Homo sapiens: one gene and its partner. The protein of the gene in region 2 interacts with the protein of the main gene of each other region in a pairwise test. Each region holds a gene or a part of one and is shown on either strand. Other genes may lie near its edges.

What was found.
Region 1: the proteins of DOK5 (region 2) and AHDC1 interact in a two-hybrid assay, tested with the Homo sapiens proteins (one large-scale study listed by BioGRID and IntAct).

Annotation. Positions count from the first base shown.
Region 1 is NC_000001.11:27,533,447-27,535,975, forward strand, and holds the end of AHDC1 (transcription factor Gibbin), read right to left. Parts: intron 1,471-2,529; 3' UTR 799-1,470; downstream 1-798. UniProt on the Homo sapiens protein: Transcription factor required for the proper patterning of the epidermis, which plays a key role in early epithelial morphogenesis. Directly binds promoter and enhancer regions and acts by maintaining local enhancer-promoter chromatin architecture.
Region 2 is NC_000020.11:54,583,558-54,587,386, reverse strand, and holds part of DOK5 (docking protein 5), read right to left. Parts: intron 1-3,829.

The DNA of each region.
Region 1 (2,529 bases), on a different chromosome or scaffold from region 2:
AGGAGTTTTCTTTTTCCAAAGTTTACCAAAGCAGGGAGGAAACATTTGGAGTTCAGGGTAGACAGAAAGGGGAGGGCAGAGCAACACTGGGGTGACTGGCCTCGTCATATCCCAGGTTCTGCATAAGCAGATGTGGGGGTGTTGGGGTAAAATGAGGGGCCTGGAAGCAGAGAAGACTGATGACCTGGGGCAAATGGGAGATACATAGACGGGGGGCACTCCAATCCTAGTGGGAAAGGGAGGCCCCATGAGGGTTCCGGGACTTAGGACGGAATGAGTGTCGCCAAGAGAGATGTCCCTGAACCAGAGTAGAACTGTGAGGCCCAAAGGCCATGAATACACAGGACACACAAAGGGACTCGAGGCAGAGACCTGGGACCTTGGATGGAATAAGGGGGTCCAGAAGCAGGAGCCCCATGATGGAGGTTCCTCAGGGAGAGGAAACCCAGCATTTGGGGAGACCTTGGACTTGGGATAGAATATAGGGAGAGTCAGAGGAGACCCAGGACCTAGGACAAAATGGAGGTCCAAGAGGCAGAATCCCTGGACCTGGGACTGAACGCATGATCAAGGGCCAGGATGTCCTCGGCAGCAGAGTGGGGAGCTCAGAGGCAGGGGAGACGCAGGGCCTGGAGTGAAATGAGGGGGAACCCAGATCTCAGGCAGAAGGGAAAACTCAGTGGCCAGGAACACGTGTAGGTATTTCAACTCCTCTGGAGAACCAGTAGCTGGTGACAAAACCCAGCGGTGTCCCTTCCATTCCCTCCACCCTCACTCCCCCTTTCACAAGACACAAGGTTGGTTTTTTTTTTTTGTTTTTTTTTTGTTTTTTTTTTGCTTTTTTTCATTTCTTTTTAATACAAACTTGGATCTTTGGGTGTGTCCTGCCAACAGAAAACAACAACAACAACAACAGAAGAGAAAACCCAAAAGAGTGAAAAATAAGAAAGAAAAAAAAAGCTCCCGCAAGAGGTTCTTCTCCCTCCCCCCCACCATGCGAATTTGCACACCACGGGACCACAGCAGGTTTACAGAATGCAATATACAATCCACGATTTATAATAAAACAGTATATACAATAAATAGGATATTGTTCATTTTTGTCAAACGACCTGTAGATAAATTTCTCAGTGCATACTTGCAGGGGCTCTGGACACCTCGGGGCCCCGCTCGCAACCTCTTGCACACGCTCGCTCTCTCGCTCTCTCTCTCTCTTTTTTTTTTTTGTCTTTTTCTAAAACTGTGTTTTGTTTTTAAGTTTTGTACATTTTTAAAAAGTATTTACAATTGCTGGTTTTGTGCAGAAAGGGCTCACCTTCGGCTTCTGCGTGGAGGAGATGGGTGGGAGGGGGTGGAGGGAGATGGGTCTGCAGGGGGTGTAGGGGGCAGGGTGGGAGGCAGAGGGGCAGGAGCTCCTGCCAGAGGACGATGTGGACGCTGGGAGGGATCTTGGCGTTGGTTTTCTGAAAGCTGCAAAGAAACACAAGAGAAGAGGCAGGAGTGAGCGGCACGCATCGACTGTGCTCTGAGATCAGGGAAGTGAAGAGGGAGACCCCCACCCAGCTCCTCCCAGGATTCAGCAGGGTGAGGGGGAAAGCTAACCACTGTTCTTTCTCACAAAAACTCAGACCTGCCTTCTCTGAGCCCAGTTTCCCCATCTGTAAAATATGCGTGTCCAAGCCCCAAAACACAGGGTGAAGCAGGTGCTGGGTGAGGAGGTGGGGTTCCAGGCAGTGGAATTTGTTAAGAGCTTGGGCTCTGGAATCAGACACAGCTGAGTTCAAATACCAGTGCCACCCTTTAGTAGTGCTATGACCTTGGGCATGTTGTTGAACTTCTGTGAGCCTCAGTTTGCCCATCTGTAAAAAGAAGATAACTGAACTACCCCATTGGTTTGCTGGGAGGATTCAGCGGTATAGGACAGATGAAGCCTGGTCCTTAAGTGCATAATAAATTATACTGATTATTATTCATTATTATTTTTCTGGGGCAGTTAGGCTCTCCAAACCTGCCTCCTCATGTCATGATGAGTTTAGTAATTCCTCCAACTTAGGCTGTTCTGAGGAATGACATCATGGGGAGGGCAGGGCCTCAGCACACAGCACAGGTGTGAACAACTGCTTTTATTTCTTCTAAATCCAATCCTCTTCTTACCAATGCCATTCTGTTCCTTAGAGAGGTGAGGTGAGGAGGAAGTCTTTCTCAGTGAAAGAACAGAGAAACTGCCCAACACAATGCCATCTGTGTTTGGCTTAACCCTGCCTTCCTGAAGCTCAGACACTCCCAAGTTCCCAGTTCCTCCCATCGCCAGACACTCGAGATTGGAAGTACCCCTTTTTCCCAGACAGTTCTCATTATGCTTGCGGGGCCCTGGGGATCTGACTTCCCTACCCAGACCCCCAGCTTGGCTAGACCCCCTGGATTCACAGCTCTGCTAGGGTGAGTGAGAAGGTCCCCTGAAGGACAGGGATGGGCTCGGGACTTCCTAAGAGCTCCAGTCATTATTAGCCTGGTCCTTTCAGACTTCTG
Region 2 (3,829 bases):
AAGCAGTAGGTGGGAAGTGAAATAAATATCCTCCATGCACAACACTAATCTGATTATTTCATTTCTCTGCTTCTTAATCTCCATCAGCCCTTTTCATAGTATAAATGCAAATTTCTTAGCATGAAATGTCACACCACTTCTCCTCAAAAAGTGCCCAAACCGATCACGTCAGTGACTCAGCACCATGTATCTTATTCTCCAACTACACCAAGTGCCTCAGGACTCACCAGATACAACTGTTGATGTGTTTGTTTATTTTTATTTTTTGCCACTACCCCAATTCAAGCCACTATCATCTTGTCACAACTACTTATTGATCTTTCCACTTCCATTTTAATCCCCATTAATGCATGCTGCACATAGCAGATTTTTTTTTCAAAACATAAGTCTTGAAATATTACTGTGCATAAACAGAACACTTCAGTGACTTCCCATTGCACGTGGGACAAAAGCCTGCATCCTTAGAATGACCACCAAGACCCCCTGTGGTCTTGCCCACGCTATCTCACCACTGTCCTCTCTATACCTTTCCCATGTGCTCTATGTCTCAGCCACCGTGGACTTTGTTCAGTTCCCAGAAGACACTGTGGTTCTCCTGGCACAGGGCCTTCTCTATCTCTCCTTACCTCACTCCCATTCCCACATGGGTCTCAGTTTAAATCTCAGTTACCCACAGAGGCCCCACTGGACACCTCCCATCCTAACACCTAGTCAGTCTCAAGGCTACACCATCCAATGATGTCCTATACCTTTCCTATTTGTTATTGGTTTCACACCCATCTTGCCTGAAAAGTGAGAGTTACATAGGGCAGGAATAGTTTTTGTTTTGTTTTGTTTTTGCTCTGCTCATCATTGTGCTCCCTGAGTCAAACACAGAACCCCTCACATATTGAGAACTCAATAATTATAAGTGGACTATATGAATGAAAGACCCAACTCACCCATAAATTTACTTGTATGGTGCTTCTAGAAGGCAAATGCCTCTCTTTCCTGCTTCTTTTCTCCAGGGAAATTTCACTTTTCCCCCAAGGTCCACTTCCTCTAGGAAATGTGCCCTGGCCTTAGTGTCAACTAACATTTCTCTTCTCTCTATTCTCATAAATGCTGCATGAAGCTCTACTGTATTATTTGTTGTCTCTCTGCAGCACCCAGCTAGACTTGAGTTGCCAGCAATGACTTACTGAAGGGCTGAATCAATGAAAACAATCATACTGATGCCAACATGCATTGGTCCCCACACATATGCCACATAACGTGCCTAGTTTATTGTTGTTGTTTGAGATGGAGTCTTTCTCTGTTGCCCACGCTGATCTCAGCTCACTGCAACCTCCACCTCCCAGGTTCAAGCGATTCTCCTGCTTCAGCCTCCCGAGTAGCTGGAATTACAGGCGCCCACCACCACACTCAGCTAATTTTTTTGTATTTTTAGTAGAGACAGGGTTTCACCATTTTGGCCAGGCTGGTCTCAAACTCCTGACCTCAGGTGATCTGCCCGCCTCAGCCTCCCAAAGTGCTGGGATTATAGGCGTGAGCCACTGCACCCGGCCAGCATTTTTATAGAGACTATCTCATTTGATCTTCATAAAAGCTCTGTGAAATAAATATTACTATTATCACCTTTTTCACAGATGAGGAAACTAGACTGCGAAAGGTTAAAGTCATACAACCAAGTTCACAGCTTAAAAAATGAAGCAAACTAACCCTAAAGCCTGTGCTTTTAATGCATCTGAAACACTAATGACTAACTAAACACTTTCAACCAGAGGCTCTTTAGCCCCTGAAAGCCACCTCTCATTTTAAGACTTCTTTCTTTTCAACATGGTTAAAAATTGAGGTGGAGGTAGAGCACGTGTGCCAACTTTATTCTGACTCTCTAGTGAGACATTATGTAAGAGTAGTCCACCCCAGCCTGAAACACAGCAATGACTTTGAAACATGTGACTTCATTACCTATCCATTAAGGGCAAAGAGGAAGAGATAGTCACCTGAAATAGTCAGGAAATGTAGGGGGAATTGTATGAGTCAGAACACAATTACCCATTTAGGAAATTGGTTTAGGAAATCAGCAACTGAACACCCCCGCTCAGGAGAAGCAAATGACCATTCCCAGAGCAGCCAGGGTCATAATTTTATGGGTCAAAGGACAATCAAATTTTAAAGCAACGGTCTCTGTCTCTACCTCAGAACTACACCTAGTGGGCATGTGCACACACACACACAACACACACACATACACAACACACACAAGCCTTGCAATCTACACTAATTCATAATGTGATAATGGAAACTTCCTCAATACACATGCTAAAGTATAGTAATAATTTAGTAATTTAGTAATAAAGTAAAGTAATACTTATGATAACTAAATTTTGCAGAGATATTTACAAGTCACATAAAACTTTTCAAAGATGTATTTATTTCCACTATCATTCTATTTTGCAAATGAGAAAACCAAGGCAAGACATAATAGTCCTCTTACAAAGAAATCTGCCTTATAAGAAATGCTAAAGGAAGTTCTTCAAGTTGAAATGAAAGGACACCAGATAGTAACATGAAAGCAAATGAAAATATATAATTTACTGGAAAAGGTGTGTGTGTGTGTGTGTGTGTGTATATCTAGATATATATACACACACACATATTATAGTGTATATATATATACACACACACACGAGTACATATTATAGTACTATATATATATACACACACATACAAATATATATTATAGTATATATACATATATACAAACACACAAATACATATTATAGTACTATAACATTACATTACATGTAATGTTACGAATATTGTATAAACAGCTTTTAATTTTGATATAGAAGTAAAAAGATAAAAGTATAAAAACTATAAAATTATGTTAATGGATACATAATAAAAAGATGAAATTTGTTACAATGATAACATAAAGGAGTCTGGTGGAATAGTTCAGCTTTTGTATGTGATTGAAGTCAAGTTGTTATCATCTTAAAATAGATGATCATAACTATAAAATGTGTTATATAAGCCCCACAGCAACCAGAAAAGAAATACCTATAAGAGACACACAAAAGAAAATGAGGAAGGAATCAAAATATGACCCTAAAGAATTTTTTAAATCACAAATACGACAGCAAGAGAAAAAGATAAGGACAAAAGAGCTACAAGAAATACAGAAAACAATAAAATGATAAAAGTAATCATTTCCTATCAATATTTATTTATTTTTATTATTTATTTATTATTATTTTTTAAACAGAGGCTCACTCTGTCACCCAGGCTTGTGCACAGTGGTGTGATCTCAGCTAACCTCTGCCTCCTGGGTTCAAGCAATTCTCCTGCCTCAGCCTTCTGAGCAGCTGAGACTATAGGTGTGCACCACCGTGCTCGACTAATTTTTTTTTTTTTTTGTATTTTTAGTAGAGACAAGGTTTTGCCATGTTGGGACCTCAAGTGATCCACTCGCCTCAGCCTCCCAAAGTGCTAGGATTACAGGTATGAGCCACTATGCCTGGTGCAGTAATTACTTTAAATGGAGATAGCTTAAACTGCCCTATCAAAAGATAAATTAAAAACCAGGTCCAACGATATGCTGTCTACAAGAGACTCACTTTAGATTTAAGGACACACATAGGCTGAGAGTGAAAAAATGGAAAAAGATAACCCATAGAAACAGCAGTCAAAAGAAGAGTAGGGGTGGCAATACTTATATCAGATTAAATAGGCTTTAAGTCAAAAACTATCATGAGAGACAAAGAAGGACACTATAATGAAAAAAAGATGAATTAACTAGTAAGATATAGCAATTATAATATATATGTATCCCATACCAGAGCAA